3 linked regions of the Homo sapiens genome follow. The protein of the gene in region 3 purifies or fractionates together with the protein of the main gene of each other region. This does not show direct contact. Each region holds a gene or a part of one and is shown on either strand. Other genes may lie near its edges.

Region 1 (7,271 bases), on a different chromosome or scaffold from region 3:
CGGTCCTTTGGTTAGGAGAAAAAGTACAGAGCTTGCAGTTGCAGCATCAGTTGCATTGTCATTTTAACCACACTCATATTTGTGTAAACAACTAAGAATATAACCAAAGTGACTATCCATGGGACCTTGTGAAAGCCCATTTACAGGGAGCGTTCACATCCAACATCACCTTTGATATTGGTGAATTACAAAACAAAATTCTTGTTTTAAATAAGCAAACTCAAAAATTTCAACCTGCTTTAGAAGACTGGACCAAATTCCAGCAACGCCTGGCAAGCCTCAACCCTTGGACCTATCTAAAGCACCACATTAACAATTTATATGTAGTTCTTGGAATAATGTTGTTTTGTCTCTGTCTTCTGCTCATAGTCTGTAAAATCGGACGGACTGCCAATCAGAGAATGAGAGATGCCCAGCCTGGCCTTACATTCTTTCAATTAATACATAAACACAAAGGGAGAGATGTTGGGAGCCAAAAAGGCCAAAGGGATCATGATCAACTCAGCATTCCACTGGAGGCTATATGATCAAATAGCAAACTGTTTATCACTATCACGAATGCAGGATGTGAGCAAACTCACACTGCGCCTGCCACCAAAAGGTTGGCTGAGGGCCTCACTCCCTGGCACGGGGCTCCTTGAAGTTATCTACTGAGAAATCTAGTGTCTATTGTTCAAACGATGCAGTCTGGCAAGCCTGCTGTGAACCAACCAGCCGACTGACAATTACCCCACAATCACCCCCCATTTATCCCTATCTGTTTTGCCTAATAAATATGGAGGGCTGTGTAAAGCTCAGGGCCCTTGTCCACTAGAGGCAAGGTGCCCCCTGACCCCTTCTTCCAAACATACTCTTGTCTCTTGTCTTTTATTCTCACGTTCACCACCCTTTGTTGTTACCCTAAGTCCATGCAGGTTGCAAGTGGCACCCCTGATCAACGACAGAATCGGGTGCTCTACAGTCAGGGAGGGCCATGTTAAACCCTTTTGTAAGCCTTGGGTTTTGAGTGAGATGGGGAGCCACTTAGGTGTTGTGAGCAAATAAATGACAGAATTAGACCTTGTAACAACAAGAAAACCCTATGTGGCAGCTGAATTAAGTGGACAGAAGTGAGGCAAAGTGGAGGCAGGAGACCAGTTAGGCTATTCAAATAATGGAGGTGAGAGATAACAGCAGTTTGGCCCAGGGTGGGGACCATGGAGGCGGTAAAATTTAATGGTTAAATTCTCATAGATTTTGAAAGCACAGCTGACAAGGCTTGGTGATAGACATGCTATAGCACAAGAAAGGAGAAGTCAAGGATGACCCCAGAATTGTGGCCCCAGGAACTGCAATAGAATTACCAGAGAAGGTCATGGATGGAGTTGGGGGTGGGAGAAGAGTTGGGAGCTCAGCATTGAAGTGGTGCTTGTCAGAAATCAGAGCAGAAATGATGAGGAGCCTAAGGGTCAAGGAGAGGTGTGGACCAATGATAAAAATGTGGGCATCACTAGCATGGGCTCAACCACCAAGAGTTGAGCACTGTGTGGGCAGGGCCTCGTGCCTGTAAGAAAGATTCAATACACGGTACAGATTTTTCCTCTCCAGCTCTTCCTTCCTTGTTTTTTTTTTTTTTTTTTTTTGGTTTGTTTGTTTGGTTTTTTTGAGTCGGAGTCTCACTCTGTCGCCCAGGATGGAGTGCAGTGGTGCGATCTCCGCTCACTGCAAGCTCCGCCTCCCGGGTTCACGCCATTCTCCTGCTTCAGCCTCCCAAGTAGCTGGGACTACAGGCGCCCGCCACCATGCCCGGCTAATTTTTTATATTGTTATTAGAGAGACGGGGTGTGAAACCGTGTTAGCCAGGATGGTCATGATCTCCTGACCTTGTGATCCGCCCGCCTCGGCCTCCCAATGTGCTGGGATTACAGGCATGAGCCACCGCGCCTGGCTGTTTTTTTTTTGTTGTTGTTGTTTTTTTAATTGAAGTGAGCGATAGAGTCAAAACCTCTTTTTTTTTTTTTACGTTTTAGTTATTTCCTAGATTTCCAATCTCTCCAGGATGTGTTACTACATCACTATAAAGAATTTATAATTTACATTCCATAGTATGTTTGTTTGTTTATTTTGAGATGGAGTCCTGCTCTGTCACCCAGGCTAGAGTGCAGTGGTGCAATCTCGGCTCACTGCAACCTCCGAATCCCAGCATCCCGGGTTCAAGCAATTCTCCTGCCTCAGCCTCCCAAGTAGATGGGATTACAGGCGTGCGCCACCACACCCAGCTAATTTTTTTGTTTGTTTGTTTTTGAGAGGAGTCTCCCTCTGTCGCCAGGCTGGAGTGCAGTGGCACAATTTCGGCTCACCACAACCTCCGACTCCCTGGTTCAAGCGATTCTCCTGCCTCAGCTTCCCAAGTAGCTGGGAATACAGGCACGCGCCACCATGCCCAGCTAATTTTTTTTTTTTTTTTTGAGACAGAAGTTTGCTTTTGTCCCCAAGACTGGGGTGCAATGGTGTGATCTCAGCTCACTGCAACCTCCGCCTCCCAAGTTCAAGCGATTCTCCTGCCTCAGCCTCCCAATTAGCTGGGATTATAGGGTTGTGCCACCATACCTGGCTAATTTTTGTGTTTTTAGTAGAGACGGGGTTTCACTACATTGGCCAGGATAGCCTCAATCTCCTGACCTCGTGATCCGCCCGCCTCGGCCTCCCAAAGTGCTGGGCTCACAGGCGTGAGACACCTCGCCCAGCCTTTTTTTTTTTTTTTTTTTTAAACAGAGTCTTGCTCTGTCACCCAGGCTTGTGCCACCACACCCGGCTAATTTTTGTATTTTTAGTAGAGACGGAGTTTCACCATGCTGGCCAGGCTGATCTGGCCTCCATCTCCTGTGCTTAAATGATCCACCCACCTCCGCCTCCCAAAGTGCTGAGATTACAGGCATGAGCCACTGAGCTCGGCCCATAATGTTTTTAAAAAGTATATCTGGAGATATTGACACAATTATGAATGCAGGCTGTAACACTTAGTAATATGGTCAATAAATTATTTTGCAATTTCAAAGTATCATTACAAAACTAATTTAAAAAGCAGCCGGGCGCGGTGGCTCATGCCTGTAATCCCAGCACTTTGGGAGGCCGAGGCGGGCGGATCACGGGATCGAGAGATCGAGACCATCCTGGCTACACAGTGAAACCCTGTCTCTACTAAAAATACAAAAAAATTAGCCGGGCATGGTAGCCGGCGCCTGTAGTCCCAGCTACTTGGGAGGCTGAGGCAGGAGACTGGCGTGAACCTGGGAGGCGGAGTTTGCAGTGAGCCGAGATCGCGCCACTGCACTCCAGCCTGGGCGAGAGCGAGACTCCGTCTCAAAAAAAAAAAAAAAAAAAAAGAAAAAACTAATATAAAAAGCTGTTGAATTTCTAAACGCATTTCCAATTGACCTTTATCAATTGCCAATAGTTTTCAAAGTGACAAATGCTGAAATTTCTAACGTTACTTTGGAATAAGCAAATATCTCTCTTTGTTATAGATCATCTGTAAAACTAATGCCATATTGAAGAAAGCCAAAGTTATAAAACTAAATTTGTGAAACAGCCCTTTATTCTTTCCTTTTCTCTTTCTAGGATGGGTTGAATTAGTACTAAATTTGGGTTTCATAAGGGCGAATTTATCTTTGAAATGGATTTTCCTCCCATCAGGTAGTCTTAATTGCTTTATAAAAATCTAAAATCTAACACAGGTTTTTAAAAAGTAAATTTTTCAAGCAGTTCATTTCCTGATGTTCGGCCCAAAAGTAAACACTGAGTATATACATTTACTTCAAATTAAAAACTGACGACCGGAAAGCATACTTTTAAAGGTAATGTCCTTGTGGAAAAAGAATTAAGAATCACGAGAACGGAACTGCTATTTGCTACCTCTGGTTTTCCGTTCACAGAAGCACGAGGAGCCCAGCGCTGCGGCTCTGCCTCGCTGGGCCACCCCTTTCGGGCACGACCGGGAGCGGGTGCTCCTCACACCGAGCGCCCGGGCGAGCACAGCTGCAGCCTGCGGATGGAGCCCAGAGCCCTGCCCTGCAGATGACGCGCCGCTGCAGCTTCGCCCACCCTCCCACAAAATGGCTGCGGGTGGCGCCAGGGATGCTGGGCGCGCGCTCCTTGGAACTAGAGAGGAGGTGGCCGGGGCGGGGCCGGGGGAGGGGGGTAGGGCAGAGCCGGCGGGAGCCCGGCGCTGATTGGCCGGCCTGGCTGGCGGGCCCCCGCCGCTGGTTCGTAGCCGGCGCAGCGGCCTGGGCTGGGATGTGAGGAGCGGCGGGTTCCGGGCTCCGGGCTCTGGGTGGCGGCGGCTGTGAGCGGCGGCACTGCGGCGCAGGCCAGCGGGCGCCGTCGGCGGCTGGCCCTGTCGGCCGCGGGATGAGGAAGCGGACCGAGCCCGTCGCCTTGGAGCATGAGCGCTGCGCCGCCGCGGGCTCGTCCTCCTCCGGCTCGGCCGCCGCGGCGCTGGACGCCGACTGCCGCCTGAAGCAGAACCTACGCCTGACGGGCCCGGCGGCGGCTGAGCCGCGCTGCGCAGCCGACGCGGGAATGAAGCGGGCGCTGGGCAGGTGAGGCTTCGCGCGGAGCGGGGGGGGGGGGGGGGCCGGTCCCTCACTTTGCGCAGGTGCGTCCCGCAGGGGGCCGCGGTACCTCCCAGCCCCTCCCAGAGTGGCCGTCCGCCCGATCCGCGGCCGCCCCCGTCCGCGCCTGTGTCCCGCATTTGGCCCGCGGCAGCCCCACCCCCGCTCCCTTCCCCAGGCACCGCGGCGGGAGCGCCCTGCCCTGCCGCTGACCCCCTGTGTCCTGCTCCGGCCCTCTCGCCAGGCACTCCTGGCCTAGCCTTGCACCCCGACCCTTTCCCGGGGAAGCCGGGGGGACCCTTACGCTGGGGGCTTGGCGCCGCCCGAAGTCATGACCCCGCGTGGGAGAGCAGGGTAGGGGGTGGGGAGTCCTTGGAAGATCCCTGGACGCCAGGCACAGCAGAGGCGGGAGGCAGAGGGGCCGGCGCCAGACCCTGAGAGCGCTGGGGCCCACTCGGACCTCCTCCTCCTGCTCTGCATCAGGCCCCACACCGAGCGCCCGGGCGGGCGCCCCTCGGGCTGGGCTGCGTGCGCGGAGCCTTACTGGCGCCTTGGGCCCTCGGCGGCTCTCCCCGGTAACTAGGGTCGGGGGCGTGCGTCGCTCAGAACTCGGGGACCTTTGGGGAAGGGCTCAGTGGGCGGCGGGGTGCTAGGGGAAGGAGGGACTCGGAGCATCGCAGCCGTCGGAGGGAAACCTGCCCTTCGCTCTGCTGGTGATGGTTCGTGGTACTTGAAATCTGTCCGCACAAGTTCGCCTCCTTGGGAATCATCTCGCAGTCCTGAGTCGTTTGGTTATTGGCGTTCAATAACCTTTGGGTTATTGGGTAGAAGATGAATGCGTTTATATAAAGCCACTTTCAAAACTGAGATGGGAACGTGTTTCATAGGGACAGATTTCTCCTCCCATCTGCTGGTTTCCTAATTATCTGGCTGTTGTAGAACGTAGCATTCCTGACAGCTTTGAAGCCTTGCTACTTCGTGGTGGTTTGAAGAAGTTACTATATGATGATCTCAGGCGTTGTAGCAGAGGCACTTCTTTTTTGACCATCTGGAATGCCCTTAGTTGACGCTGGCCACTTGAGTGTAAAATATGCGTATCGCTCCTAAGGAAAAGTAGAATTTCAACTTCATTGCTTAAAAAAATCATGAAATTAAACTATAGACACTTCTAAGTCGATGGTTTGACAGAAGGGCGGAGACTGATAGTTTTGTGTCTTTATGTGTAAAATTATGTAGCATCTGATCAATATCTTTTGTGAAACTAATCTGTTCTCTTTGCTATGGAAAGATTTATCTGCATTAAAAACTCATGATTTAACTTTAATACAATTTTATTAACAGACATGGCATAACGCTTAGATAAATTGGAAAATTCTTCCTTCGAAAAAATCAAATTGCCGGGCGCGGTGGCTCACGCCTGTAATGCCAGCACTCTGGGAGACCGAGGCGGGCAGATTATCAGAGGTCAGGAGTTCGAGACCAGCTTGACCAACATGGAGAAACCCCGTCTGTACTAAAAATACAAAATTAGCCGGGCGTGGTGGCGCATATGCCTGTAATCCCAGCTACTCGGGAGGCTGAGGCGGGAGAATCGCTTGAATCTGGGAGGCGGAGGTTGCGGTGAGCCAAGATCTCGCCGAACCGAGATCGCACCAGTGCACTCCAGCCTGGACAACAAGAACGGAACTCCGTCTCAAAAAAAAAAAAAAAAAAGAAAAAATCAAATTGTTTTACACAACGTTTGGGGAAACAGCGGCGACCTGGCACCTTCTTGAAGAATGTACTGTATTAAAATTACCCGATTAATTTTTATTTTCGTGTCAGGACAAAGAGAGACATTCCAGTGGTGTCCATATCCTTTGGATAAGCAAAAGGCTGTTAGGGGTAAAAAGCAAAACAAAGGGAAAGAAGACCAAATTTGTTAGGTTGTCTTCCTTCCCAGCTGGCTGTCTCAGACATCCTTGAGCTTTCTTCTCTTCCTCGCTCAGGCTCTGCGCCACCATCACCTCCTCCTCACTGAGGCCTTCTTAGACCAGCCCACTCCTGTCGACCTTGTTATCACTCGAGATTGTAATTTTTGCTCGTGTGCCTCCCCCGCAACCAGAATGGAAGCGCCATGAGAACAGGAGCTTTGTTTTCTCCACTTAAGTATCTCCAGTACCTGGCACGTAGTAGGTAGCAGAAAATACTTGTTGAATGAACAAATATCCATAGAACAGATATCCATTGCGCCACAGAGCCGGCTCGTTTGTGTCTTTTATGATCCTTCTTTGGATCCTTCCGCACATTTTTTAAACTCTTTATTGTCGACATACGTGGAAGTAGAGAAGACAATCTAATGAGCCTTCTTCATGTGTCCATCACTTAAAAGTTTTCAGTGTTTAGCCAATTTTGAATCATCCATCCCTCTTCTCTTTTTTTTTGTAGGATGAAGGATTGGATTTTTTTTTTTTTTTTTTTTTGAGAAGGAGTCTCGCTTTGTCGCCCAGGCTGGAGTGCAGTGGCAATCTCGGCTCACTGCAACCTCCACCTCCCAGGTTCAAGCAATTCTCCTGCCCCAGCCTCCTGAGTAGCTGGGATTACAGGCGCCCGTCACCGTGCCTGGCTAACTTTTGTAGTTTTAGTAGAGACGGGGTTTCACCATGTTGGCCAGGCTGGTCTCGAACTCGTGACCTCGTG
Region 2 (7,022 bases), on a different chromosome or scaffold from region 3:
AGCAGAAACAATGATTATTTAAAACTTGGCTCTGGAAGAAATTCTCTTCACCTAGCTCTCCCTAAATATGGATATTCATACTAAATAATGGTCCCAAAGTCCCTATAAAAACTCAGAGGGCAGGAAGACCAGCAAACAGTATGTGTACTGATTAAACATTAGGAAAGACTTAACAATAATTGCAAATTTATTTGGAGGATTTCTTTAAATAGATAAAATACAAAATTCATTTCATCACATGCAAGAGCAGGCAGAACTGTACTTTTATCCTACCTACATAGTTGGAATGTAATATGTTAGGATGGTGACTCTGTGGGGTAAGGCTACCCAGCTCTTTAAGGGCCAGAGAAAACTGGTTTTTGGTTTATGCTGGATTAAAAACAAAAAAGAAAAAAGACAGCTCTGGCTCTAATTATACTCGGGATTTCTCATTCCATAATAACTTACAAAAAAAAAGCATTGTGCAAAGTTCCATTTTATATCAGGACACAAAAAGGGGTAGACTAATAAGGGGGGAGAAAAGTTCACTAAAGATTTGAGAAAAATACCCTATCAGGCAGATAGTACTCAACTACCCAATGAATGAAATATTTTAAAACGTGAGAGTAAAATGTTGAGACAATAAAGATGTTTTACAACAGCTATAAAAATTATAATAATGATAATTATCTTTTAAATATTCAAACAATGTGTTTATTATGCTTTTCAATAGAATTTCAATGAGAAAGTCATAATTTTGGATACATGTATTCTATCTTTATATTTTGTACGCCACAGGCTTGCTCTATACTGTTTTACTAGGCATTGAGACAATATAAATTACAGTATTTTTCTTTCCTTCCTTATGGATATGTTTTAAAAACAATATAGAGGCTCTTATAAAAGCTGAGAGAAATATGGCAAAAATTCTTTCATAAATCATATTGGTGCTTTTATTGAAAAAACTTTTTATGGATAACAACTATACATAGAAACCAGCTTATTTTCTGTTACCTCATCCTCTGACCCAGACTTATTTGATTGATTACTTTCTTCTTGCCCTTCTATGATTTCAATTTCTTCTTCACTCTTTTCCTCAGGTTCACTTTCCTCTTCTAGAATACAGATTTTGTTAAAAGCAAAGACTCAATAAATTAGAATTTTGCTACTGAAAAGTATTAAATACAATAAATGGGATTTATTTAAATTCCAAGATTTATTCCAAGATTTAGAAGCAACTTCTTCCATTCAAAATTTTAAAAATTATAAATACTCATTATATTATCATATTTTATAAATGAATCATATTTGAGTTTGGGGACAAGTTTAAAAAATTCTTAAGCATTCAGTCTGTATGTAATATGAAAACCAAAAAATAATAATCTTTCCTGTGTTCCTGTCTTGGAAAATACTTCCTTTAATTTTTGGTGATCTTTTAATCTTCAATATGTTATTTACTTATGTTTGTTCTCTGTGGACATCATGCATTTTTTCAGTTATTGACCCTCCTTAGGATTCCATTTAGCAGAACCTCCAACTTTTGTCATCATTATTAACCAAAAGATATTAAGCACGTCCTAGGAGCTATATAAAGTAAAAACTCCTACCCTACCAAGAATGGGCTTTGGGGAAAGGGAAGTTGAAAAATCAACTCTACTTCTTCTACGTAGTTCCAATGTGGGACTACGTGTATAGATGAAAGTGGTGAAAGTACCTTTATACAAGCAGGCCCCTCCGATACTTAAATTCCCTCTAAATAAGGCTGATCCAGACATCAATATACTAAGCACTAAGAAGTTACAAAAACAAGGCTGGAAACTTACAACCTGAAACATTTGTTGTTTTAGATACCTATCCTAATACACACATGAACATGTGTATGTATATGTGTGTATATATATATATACTGTCTCTTAAAAAATAGATAGACACATATGTGTTTTTAAGTCAACTGTTTCATTAAGTGAGTTAAACACTGTGCTTCAAGACATTTGGCTTGGGACACTGGGCAAATCAATAGTTTTATTTCTACCTTATGTAAGGAGGTCTCAGCGGACAGCCACCAAAGGGTGACTTCAGTTCTAACATCTTCAAGAGTTTAACATAGGGTGAGAAGGGGATATAGGTTCAGCAATCCTTTCAGAAAATTAATTAAATTATTTCTTCTATATGATAAGCATCTGACTAACAATAGCTGTTGGAAGACTTGGTGTTGATTTTGTTGCTGCAATCATCTGTTTTATATCTATTCCTTTTCTACAGAGGCCATGATATACACCCTCTATCACCCTCCATCTCATCTTCTACACTCCCAGAGCCAAGAAACATCCTTGCAAAAAGCTATGGCCTATGGGATTCATTAACTGCTAGGCTCTCAAGCAACTGAACACTATTTAAATCTCCTTCTTCCTAGAATGCAAAAACTATAAACAGGGTGGCTGCTCAGAGGACTATTATTCCTTCTTGCCACAGTCACATATTCTTGGGAGATTCAGATGTATAAACTTGATAATAAACAAGTATAATAACTAGTTATTTCAAGGCCATATACAGTTTTATGAGCTTTACCCAGAGTCTCCATTATAAATCACTCTCATCATCTTACCTTTTTCAAGCATTTCACCATCATTTTGCTTTTTTTCCTCTTCCAGGTCCATTGGTTTTTCCAGGGCTGCTTTCTCTTCCTTTTCTTCTTGCTCTAGTACTCCTTTTGTTTGTGGTATACATATGTCGGTTTTTTTATACTCTGTATCTTTATGTTTTTTCTGTGGTAGTTAACATAAGTTATTTTTACTAAAGGCAGAGTGCTATTTTGAAAGTTTTTTTGCAATAATTGATAACATACATAATGAACTATCAGTAAAACTTATGAGACATTTAGTTTATTACTTTTAAGAATCGCTTAATTTATAGAACTCTTAAACAACAAGAAATTTGGGTGAAAAAAGTTGAAGGAAATCCATTTTCTTTACCTTTACTTTTCTTGGCCAACAAAATGAAGTAATTAATGCTATTGGCACTCCTGCTGTCACAAGATAAATCAACCAAAGCCATGGGTGCCCTTCAGCAGCTGCCATTAACTGTTTTAATACACCAGGCTATAGACGAGATAAGCATAAAAATGCAATTCAAATTTTACAAACCTTTACTGGGTAACACAAGATACAAAAAAACTTATTTACTCAGGCATTTTACATTAAGGAGTGATGAACTCGTAAGTAAAAGAAGTTTCATTTTCCCACCTTATACTTTGTAAAGTCTAATTTAATTATTAGCATGCATCACTGAGTGAGACTTGATAGCAGAAGGTATGTTATGACAAAAGTGGAAACTTCTAACATACTGGCAAGAAAAATGGTAATTTTCCTTTTTGGTAAATTTCAGAATAGAACTACCTTTTATGGATGTATTACCTGGTTTATTTGAAGTGATCATTCATTCTGTACTCTGATCATTCATTCTGTACTTTTAAAGAACTTACTAAAAATCATACCTCAGAATTGTTTTCTTTTTTATATAAACACATTTCACACATAAGACCCTCAGTAAGGATATTATTTCTCTTATTAAAATAAAATTTAAAAAATCAAATGTTTTAGTTACAAGAGGTTCAAAACAAGAATCCCTCTTCACCTACTCTTTTGATGGTTTTTCGCTAGTGACCCAAGGAACCAAATGTAAGGTAAGAATTTTTCTTTATAGCAACTGAATTTAATGATACATTTTCTAAGATGCATTGTGTTGAAATATTTAGCCCAACCTTTTCTAAACAGTGTTAAGGTTTCGGGAAAAAACTGGAACAGAATTTAATAATGTTAAACTATAAATTCTTTGTACATTCCTCTAAGTAAAAAATAGTTAAATAAACAGTAATATTTAGATTATCATTGTCACTTAGGTCTTGAACTGGCAAGATGACAAAGATATTAAGTAGTCTTCTTCTATGAACAGTAAATAAGCATTAAATCCCATTAGTGATGTTATAATTTAATGAATAAAATGAGGACTTACATATGCATATATAGCTCATAATGAAGTAACATAAAAAGCAAAATATTCTGTCTACATAAACTTATTCAAACACATTTCCTTGGCATTTAGTAGTTACTGCACATTTATTTGCATTTAAAAGAGCCATCTGAATAACCTACAACCAAGACCAAGTATTATTATTCATAGTTATATCACTACTGCTATTGGTCAACACCATACCTTATTAGCATTTGCTATCATTATTTTCCATCTCCAACCATCTGCAGCCCAGTGATCTGCTACTTCCTTTTCCGAACAGATAATAAAATTATCAAAGTAGATATCAGAGGTCATAGACCAAAGCTCTAAACCAAGAGCACTGAAAGAAGTCAGAAGAAATGGATGATCATCTTCGAAATAATCTGGATTAGGAATTTTTCGAGGACTCCAGATTCCCTGGAAGAAAAGTAATTGAAGACATTTTCAAATAAAATAACTTCATTATAAATGCTGCTTAATAAGTAGCTGCTGTTGAATGAAATTCGCAATGCTAACTGGAAAAAAGAGAATTTTAACTGATATTAATTCATTAGTAATATACTGGATATAAAATCTTGTTTCTTTTGCTGTGTACACAATGTTCCCTACGAGTGATACTAACTTTAAATTCTGCAAGAAAAGGAAAAGGGAAAATCCAACATAAACAGAAACGTGAATAAATTTCACAATTTGTCTACTTTGGACAAATTTTTAGATTTAGTAAAGTTATTCATTGCAAAATGTTATTCAAGTTGTCCAAATCAGAAAGATCATTGTATAGCAAAAATGGAGTTACTCCATTTAACATATACCCATGACAGATATCATTAATCAGGTATGGTTGAATCTCGGCACAACTACTCAACCTAAAACTTCCATTAGATCTTAAATGATTAAACTGTCCATTAAATCAAATACATTCAACAATATCATTGCTCACTGACTCACTCCACCATCACATGTATGTATTCTGGGCCAGGCACTATGCCAGATGATGGAGACATACATGGTTCCTGTATTATGGAGTTTAAAGTCAAATAAAAGAGACAGACATCAAACAAAAAAATTTACCAAAAGAAACATTTTGTGTTAAATGCTTTTAATAAAAACTACAGTGAGTAATTAGAATATGAAACTGCATATATATAATGTTAGAACGTATCCATAAATAATTACAAAGATAAAACTAGAGGGTTAAGTGGATAACATAGAAACTTTTAATATAAAAAGCTAGGTACACTCAAAAGATGTCGATTGATATCAGAAAAAAATCAGGGCTGGGTTCGGTGGCTTACTTCTGTAACCTGAGCACTTTGGGAGGCCAAGGTGGGCGGATCACGGTCAGGAGTTCGAGACCAGCCTGACCAACATGTGAAACCCCGTCTCCGCTAAAAATACAAAAGTTAGCCGGGCGTGCTGGGGTGTGCCTGTAATCTCAGCTACGTAGGAGGGTGAATCAGGAGAATCGCCTGAGCCCAGGAGGCAGAGGCTGCAGTGAGCCAAGATCACGCCAGGCCAGGTTTTTTGTTTTTTTGTTTTTTTGTTTTGAGTCTTGCTGTGTCGCCAGGCGGGAGTGCAGTGGCACGATCTCAGCTCACTGCGATCTCCACCTCCAGGGTCCAAGAGATTCCCCTGCCTCAGCCTCCTGAGTAGCTGGGACTACAGGCGTGCGCCACCACATCTGGCTAATTTTTTGTATTTTTAGTGGAGACAGGGTTTCACCATGTTGACCAGGGTGGTCTCCATCTCCTGACCTCGTGATCCGCCCGCCTTGGACTCCCAAAGTGCTGGGATTACAGGCATGAGCCACCGTACCTGGCCAAAAATCAGAATTTTAATAATACTAAATAATAAGTACATTAATTAAGCACAGGCATTAATTACTAAAATGTACAATATGAGTCTATTTGATCAAAATTCACTTCTTATATTTACTTCTAAAATAGAACTTTATTTCAAAGTGAGCATCAACTGATAATTAGGGAAGAATATAGTATGAAGTGATTTATTTCCCCAGAAAATTAAATAATTGATGCTCTACTTTTAAAATATAAATTAGTTGAGGTCTATTTTCTTTGACATCTTAAAATTAAAAATGAAACTTCCAAAAGTTGACATAGGTAATTAGATATTTAAATAGAAAAGATCACAACATTTTTAACTTCACTAAATAATTGGAACAAGCGGTTGTTACCTGATAGTTAGGATTATCGACCAGTGGAGGTCTCCATACTCCTTTGTATTTTGGGTTATCTATCATGGGAGGTTTCCACTCACCACACCCAATCCGACATGCTGGATTAAGAATCTGAGGTGCCTCCCATTCTCCATCCGTGTCTTCATTCCTTAGGATATTAAAACAAAGCAAATACAGTAACCTCAAGTCTCAGATCAGTCATATAAACTAGTAACAAAAATGCATGTAAGAAACATTTGAAATCGACATTTGAAGATGAAGAGTGCTTACCAGTCATCAGGTTTTTCAGCATTAGGATCAGGGATAAATTTTGGTTCATCATCAAGCCAGCCAGCAGGTTTAACAACACTTGAATCTTCTATTTGGGCAGGTTCACTTTCATCCCTGTAAATACAACGTTTTATATTACTAATTATTCAGAAAGTTTAAAAATGCATGTTACAACACTAAGAAGGTACCATAAAATTATTTCCCTCCCTTTTGTTTGTGCCTGTTATTTGTCCTCATCTACTACCCACCTAAATCTTTTGCTAACTTGCCAATTTTTGGTACATATTCCCTGTTGTGCTCTATGCATACATGCACACACGTATACATTCTTTTTTTTAATACGAATGATAGCATTCTATACATAATGTATTAGACCTTGCTTTTGTTACTTAAAAACTCAGTCATTCATCAACAAATATATATTGCATGCTTACTATGTGTCAAGACTGTTCGAGGAGCTCCATTATTATTATTTTTTTCTTGAGGTGGAGTCTTGTTCTTGTTTCCCAGGCTGGAGTGCAATAGTGCGACCTCAGCTCACTGCAACCTCTGCCTTCCGGGTTCA
Region 3 (7,063 bases):
ACCTTGTTGTACATGGAGCTGACATCTCGCCGTAGGTCGTCATGCTCTGACACAGTGATCTGTGGGGAGAGATCACAGCTGACCCAGCCCTGCTCCATGATGCCCTCCCTCAAGCCCAGGGCAGCCTCCAGTCCTGGTCTGCTCACGTTGGCCAGCTGCTGCTCCACTTGCAGGATCTCTTGGGCCTTCTGTTCCACAGCGTCTGCACCCAGGAGGCTGAGCACTCGCTCCATGAACACCCTGTATGCTGCCAGGATCTGCACCAGGGGAGGGGGCTCACCCAGGGACAGGGACAGGCCTAGCCTGGATCCACCCCTCCTGGGGCCCCAGGCCTTCCCTGCCTCCCCATCCCATGCCCCAGCACCTTCTCACTGTCCTCATCCTGAGCGAGGTACAGGGTCCTCTCTGGCAGGGTGAGCCCATCCTGGTCAATCTGGGGAGGGAGACAGGGGCCACAGGTCAGAGGCCCACACCTCAGGTTCCCTAAACAGAGGGAATTCCCACTCCAATGCCCAGAGAGCAACCAGACATCCATGAGTACAGCCACAGAAGCACGCAGACCCCAGCTCCTCTTTCCACCCAGACGAGATGGCCAAAGCCCCATCCCTGACTGTCCCAGCCTGCGGATGCCCAATCTTACCCCTGTACGTCTGCACTTTCCTTATCTGTCCGGGGCATTCGTAGGTCCCCCACTGACAGTTGGGACCCCTAGCTTTGGGGCCAGCTCCAGACCTCGCGGAGACGTCAACCCAGCCCGCCGGCGCGCCTCTCCCTCCTGGCCCTCACTGCCTGCCAGAGGGCTGGGAAATTGCGGCTCCCGCGGCTCCTCTAAACACCGCAATTACCCCAGGGAAATTACTTGCGCCCTCCTCCCGCGCTCTGCCTCTGTGCGCTCCCCTCCCCTCCCCTCTCCTGCTCGTCTCTTCCCTCCTCTCCTCTCACGCACCCGCCTCCCGCGCGCAGGGACCCCTGGGCAAGGCCACTGCGCCCCGGATCCGCGGCCGCTGGCAGGGCGCTCAGGGGGCGCACTCACGCGGATGACGTAGCGCGAGGAGTTCCTGTCGTCCAGGCTGACCGTGAGCGAGAAGAGCGCGGCGGCGCTGTACACGCCCTGCGCCTTGTACAGCAGCCGGTTGAGGTCCCATCGCGCCGCGACCCCCGGACGCTCCTCCGCGCCGCCCAGGTCCCAGCCCCCGCAGTCCTCGATGACCTCTAGCATGGGTCGCGGGCCCAGTCGCTCGATCTCGCGCATGTCGAGGCACGAGCGGAAGAAGGCGCGCACCTTGCGCTGGGCCGCGCCGCCAGGCCCACCCCCGGGCCGCGCCAGCAGGCGCCGTAGGCGCTCCTCGTTTTGCTCGCCGATGGCCGCGATGGTGCCATAGGTGAGCTTGTCGTCGGGGATGGCGTGGCGCCGCAGCCAACCGCCGCAGGCGAACGAGTAGAAGTCCTGGCATGGGTCGATGCTGGCGTCCAGGTTGGCGGCCAGGAAGCGAGCGGCGCGCGCGAAGGCCTTGCGCTCAGGGCAGCCCTCGGGACAGGCGCCGCCGCCGGCCGCGACCGGGCCCAGGTACTTGAGGGCCAGCATAGCCGCCAGAATGGCGCAGAGGCCGGCGGCGAACACCAGCCCCGACAGCAGGCACACCTCGCGCCGGTTCCAGCGCGGCAGCCCGGACCGGGCCCCGGTGGCGCTGCGCGCAGCGCCCAACGGGAAGCCCGGGGGCAGGGAGGCCCCGCGCGCGCCCCCCGCGCCGCAGCGGCTCACGTACTTGACCTCTTGGAACTCATCGTAGTGCGCCGTCAGCGAATACGGGGGCTCCATGGCGCCGAGGCCGCCGCGGTGCAGACCTGGGCCACCTGGGCTACGGGATGCGCGTGGCCGCCGGCCTCCTCGTGGGCCTCCGCATGGCCCTGGGGCCGCAGCTGCGGGAAGGGCGGAAGCAGGCTCAGGAGGCGCCGCAGCCGGATGGGGCTCAGGGTCACCGCGAGGAGGGACACAGGCCTGGGTGCAGAGGCCCCAGCCGCGGGCCTCATTCACTGCGGAAACCAGGGACTATGAGGGTTCGGCGGGGCCACCACCCCCGGGTGCACAGTGGAGTCTTCCCCCCTGTCCCCTCCCTGCACACACTTGAGGGCCGCAGGGTTGGGAGGGCTCTTATTGGAAGCAAGAGGCGCCAGGCAAGGGGCCTGGCACGTAGTGGGCCTTCATTGAAAGGTCGTCCCTCTTCCCCTTCGCCTTTCTCTTCCACGACCTGCCCCAGCCAAGGCCGGGTGGAGTGGGGGAAGAAGCGGAGGCTGGAGTGAGGAGGTGCGGTCAGGGGCGCGTCTATGCGACACTTTCAGCTCTCCGCGCTGGACCCAGACAGACGCTCCGCAAAGCGGCCAAAGAACCAAACTTTGTCCTCGCGGAAGTCCGCGGGATCGACCACGCCAACCCCGCTCCCTGGCTCCTTCTGCTCGGTGGCCCGACGGCCCACTCGCCCCTTCCCTAGGGGCGCGCGCCAACGCCCCAGGGTGGCGGACACACAACCCACCCACTGGACGGCCCTGATGGAGAACCCGAGACGGGTTCCCTCCCCCCACTCCCACCATCTCTGTCCCCGCCCCGAGCCACTCCTGGCTTCAACAGGTTCTCCCCAGAACCCAAACTTGGGCGAAGTTTCACCCCCGGCGGGGAGCGAGCTGGCTGGCGACCCCCGAGCCCCGGCGCCGTGCGGCGCAGTCCGCGGAGCCCGAGAGCCGAGCCCGGGAGCCGCAGCCGCAGCCGCAGCCGGAGCCGCAGCCGAGAGGACGCAGACAAAGCCGGGAGGCTCCGCGCAGTGGCGGCGGCGGCGACGGAAGTGGCCGCGGTGGTGGCCTCAGCGGCAGGGACTCGGGCGCCACTTACCCGGCAGGTGCGCGCCCGAGCCGGCGGTGACCGAGCGGGTCGGGCCCGAGCGGGGGCCTGAGCCGCAGCGCAGCCGAGCGGGCGTCCGGTGTCTCCCAGCGCCCGCCGCCTCCTCTGCCGCCGCGCCGAGCCCGCCGCGCCGCCCGCCTGCCGGCCCGAGGGAGGGGGCGCGCCGGCGGCTCCACCCTCCTCCGCCCGCCCCGCGCGCCCCTCCTTCCTCCTGCATCTCTCGGGCCACCTGGCAGTGGGGCGGCAGCGCGGACGTGGGTCGGCGGCCGCGGAGACAGGCTCCCGGGGGTCGTGCGCGGGCTGCGGTCGGGGACTCCGGGTCCAGCCGCGTTCCGAGACGAGTGAGGGCAGCGAGTACTCCCGTGAAGGGTCCCCTCCGATCCAGTGTCCCCACTCCCAGCCGCCCACCAGCCGGCTGGAAAGGGGCTGGAGCTGGAGATGAGGAGCCGAGGACTCCTCCGAAGGGCTGGGGGCGGTGTCAGTAGTGCCTGTGTCTGCCGGCACAGTCCCTGGCGCAGAGCGCACCTTCACTAACCGGCTTTTTTGTCCTCCTTGGAACCCCTGCCCTGGATGGGCTCTCCACTAGGGCTTCTGGTTGGCCTCGCTCCCTTCACCTAGCCCCTGGTGAAGGGAGCTCAGCGGGGACTCCTGCAAGAAGAGGGCTTGCCGCCCCCTTCCCCATCCTCCCCAGCCTTGGGTGGCCCTGGCACCACGGCTCAGGGAGTCCCTGGCCCAGGTAGGAAGAAAAGGCCAAGAGAAGAATGAGCGAAGTCTCCCTGCTGGAGCCAGGGAAGGCTGGAGCCTGCCCCCTCTGGCCAGCAGCCCTAGGCCTCAGACAGGCCCTGAGCCTCAAGACCCTGGTATGTGGACTGATGGGAGGGCAGGCTGGGTGCAGGGACTCTGAATTTACTCACCGCCTGCCTTCTTCCAGGTAAACTGGCTTTTTAAATGTGGGGCCTCCCCACTGCCTGGAGGCAAAGCCCTCTTCTACCTGCCTGCCTGCCTTGGCCAGACAGCCTGGCCCTAATGGGACACAGAGAACTTGGGGCTCCTTGGAAGACTGATACTGTTTCTGGAGTCTCTGCTTTCTCTGCCCTACCCTGCCTCTGGTGTCTCTAGCAGGAGACCCCACAAAGCACCAGCCCTCCCAGGTCTGCCGGCTCCAGCCCGTAGGATTGGCTTAAACAATGTGTGAGAGCCATGGAGCACCATCTAATAAAAATCACAACAAGGTAGGGACTCTGATAACCTACCCATCATCCTGTTCTCCTCCTCAGGGTCTGTGCATCTGCCCAGCTCCTGAGCCCTGGCCCTGAGTGCCGGCCTCTGCCCCTGTCTTGCCTCTCCCTGCCTCTTCATCTCTCCATCTCTAAGCCCCCACTCCGGATACCCTGCCTCCATCTCTGGCCACCCCAGGGTTGTCCTCTGCCCCATGCATCCTTCTTGGGTCCTATTAATTCTAAAGAGGAAAAATGGAATTACTTATAATGTGGCGATTCCATGAAGGGGGGAGGGGAGGGCAGGGAGGTGGCAAAGTGGCTCTTTGTGCTTTTAATCTGCATTTTTCCCTCAATGTTCCCGTCTCCAGGAGGATAATTTTCCAGCCTTTTCAGGCCCTGATTGGTATCATTTCTCCAGCAAGGACAGCTTTTATTTTCCCCGAAATGAATGCCATGAAATTTCCAAGAAATGTAAAAATGGATATTGTCTCAGAGAGCCTCTTCCGACAGAAAGGCACAGAGGCAAACACGCTTCCCTAGGGACTCTTCTGCTCCAGTCCCGGGGGTGGGGTGGGGGGCAGCCCCCAGGCCCTCAGTCTCTCCTCCCTCCTTTTGCCCTCCCTCATCCCTTCCTCCTCCCTCCCGGGTCAGCTCTGGGACCCCCCTTCCAGCCACCCTCTCCCAGACTCAGCTGCTATTGGTCTGCTCATGGGCCTCCCGACTCCCTGCCGGGCGACCTGCCTGGCTCCACCTCACCTTTTCTTTTCACATCGCATCCCCCAGCCCCGGGCTGAGAGCAGCAACCAGGGCCTACAGGAGTTGACTTGGAATTGGGCCCTCTGACCCCTCAGTCCTGGCCACCCCACACAGACTGCCAATAAAGAGAAGTCAGAGGCCCACCTCCTTGACTCTCCGGCACCTTCTCTGTAAGGGAAGCTGGCACTGTAGGGGAGTAGGCACCAGTGGTCTGGCCTGTAGCTTGCTCACTCTTTTGGGGGATCTCTTCCTACCCCTAATTACCAAGATGACCCCATGACTCATGAGAAAGAGAATGACAGGCCACAGTGGTGCCCAGCTAAACCCAGCCAAGCCCTGAGTGAGGCAGCTGGGTGCCCAGCTTCAGGGAGCAGTTGGGTGCTGCCAGAGCTGCCTTGGAGAGAAAAGGCCCGAGGGGATGCAAGGGGGCAGAGATGAGGGGTTCAGAACCTGACTCTCTGTCTCCTCCTTGACCAAGGGTAGATCCCAGCAACTCTGCCGAACAGGGCATCACTTGGTTTGGGTTCTGGACATAGAGCCCTCCCTGAGGACAGTGTGCTGTCACCAGTAGCTTGCATCTGTTGCACGTTCACCATGTGGGCTGCTAAGTGCCCTGCTCTGAGGTGGGGCTGCCCACCTAACGCCGGGCCTGGTCCTGACTGGAGCCCATTTGTGGTCGGACCCGCCTCTCTCCTGCGGCCTGCACGTGGGTGGGGATGAACCCCTTGCCCTGCCTCGGTGTGCTGCAGCAGGGTGTCAGCTCCAGGACGAGCCCCGCCAGCCTCCACCCTGTCCAACCAGGCCCTACTCCTCCCCTGCAGATCTGTGGTATCTTCTGAGCCCTAAAAACACGCCTCCAGCCAGCTTCCTGTCCTCCACCCGGCCTCTCGGGGCTCATCCCATCTATTATTCACAGCACAAAATGGATTTTTAATTTGAGAAATGAAATGACTCTCCCAAGTGGCCGGGGTGGCAGGGAGGGGGTGGAGGAAGGCCGGAGCCGCCGTGGCCGCCACAGCCGCCACGGTGCTGACTCAGGTTCATCTTGGAAAGCTCGGGGCCCACAGCCGAACTGAGAGACCCCAAAGGCCCAGTACCCCACCACTCTGCCCCAGGCCTCCACTCCTCCCCATTGCTGTGACCAGGTGGGGTGACGGGTGCCCGTTGGTCCTGCCTGAGCCTCCAGTGGGGCCTACCTCTGGCAGGGCGGTCGGGGGGACAGCTGGATCTGTCCTCCACTGGCTTTCAGATTCCTGTGCCTCAAGGGCAGCCCTTGGGCTCCCTGGCCTGGCCTATCACCTCCCCACACCCCCCGGCCCTCCTGGCCTGGCTTCCTCCACCCTGTCCAGACCTCTGGCTGAGCTCCTTTGCTAGGTCCTGACCCCACACTAGGCCCACTCCGGCCTCGACTGCTGGCACTGGCCTCCGCTGCTGGACACCTGGCCTCCACTCCGGCCTCCACGGCAGAACCCCTCCTCACCCCTCACGGGGGAGCTCAGGCATCTTAGTGTGGCCCACAAGGCAGGGCCTCCTCCTGGCTCTTCTCTGTCTTTGTCCCTCTCTGCCTCCCCACCCCCATACCTCCCTCTTTCCTCTGGTTACTCTGATCTATTTCCATTTCCCAGAACATGGCTGGCTCTGTCATCCCTCAGGCCTTAGCACTTGCTGTTTCAGCTGCCTGGAACACCCTTCCCCCGTCCCCTCTTACGGTGGCCAATTGCCAACCATCCTTCAGGGCCACCTGGAAGTGGCCTCTCCCATCTGGTCAGGTGCTGCCTCCACAGGCCCCTACTCCACCGGATGCAAAGTCTCTCCTATGGCAGCCCCTGTTCTTCCCCTCCAGGTAGCCCGCGGCCCCTTCTGGAGCCCAGGACAGGGGACGCATATGATAAACTCAGGTGACGTCCGTGATCAGTTCATGGAGATGCCCTGCCTGAAGCATCTCTCAGCGCCAAGCCATACACCAGGCACAGCACCCAGGCAAACCTGCCCAGGCTCTCAGATCCTGAACACCTTTCCTTTGCTCTGGAACCCACCAGATGACAAAGTGGGGGCCACTTTTCCACCCTCCTGCACCCCTCCTCTCCACTCTGAACCCCGTGGTAGGCTTTGTCCTCGCCATGCATAGACTCCTCTTGGGGTCACCTCCCAACCTCTGGAGCAATGTTGTTTTTGTACAAGAAACATGTAAATA

Evidence for each region. Proteins that work in one complex are often made in the same cells at the same time.
Region 1: the proteins of ECEL1 (region 3) and ABHD12 purify together in Homo sapiens (co-immunoprecipitation; 2 studies listed by BioGRID and IntAct, with this or other methods). This does not show direct contact.
Region 2: the proteins of ECEL1 (region 3) and CLGN purify together in Homo sapiens (co-immunoprecipitation; 2 studies listed by BioGRID and IntAct, with this or other methods). This does not show direct contact.

Annotation. Positions count from the first base shown.
Region 1 is NC_000020.11:25,387,822-25,395,092, reverse strand, and holds the start of ABHD12 (lysophosphatidylserine lipase ABHD12), read left to right. Parts: upstream 1-4,257; 5' UTR 4,258-4,389; coding exon 4,390-4,580; intron 4,581-7,271.
Region 2 is NC_000004.12:140,389,635-140,396,656, forward strand, and holds part of CLGN (calmegin precursor), read right to left. Parts: intron 6,572-7,022; coding exon 6,458-6,571; intron 6,336-6,457; coding exon 6,185-6,335; intron 4,408-6,184; coding exon 4,192-4,407; intron 3,078-4,191; coding exon 2,952-3,077; intron 2,745-2,951; coding exon 2,585-2,744; intron 1,095-2,584; coding exon 994-1,094; intron 1-993. UniProt on the Homo sapiens protein: Functions during spermatogenesis as a chaperone for a range of client proteins that are important for sperm adhesion onto the egg zona pellucida and for subsequent penetration of the zona pellucida.
Region 3 is NC_000002.12:232,484,835-232,491,897, forward strand, and holds the start of ECEL1 (endothelin-converting enzyme-like 1), read right to left. Parts: upstream 3,001-7,063; 5' UTR 2,885-3,000; intron 1,921-2,884; 5' UTR 1,820-1,920; coding exon 1,034-1,819; intron 434-1,033; coding exon 365-433; intron 258-364; coding exon 147-257; intron 60-146; coding exon 1-59. UniProt on the Homo sapiens protein: May contribute to the degradation of peptide hormones and be involved in the inactivation of neuronal peptides.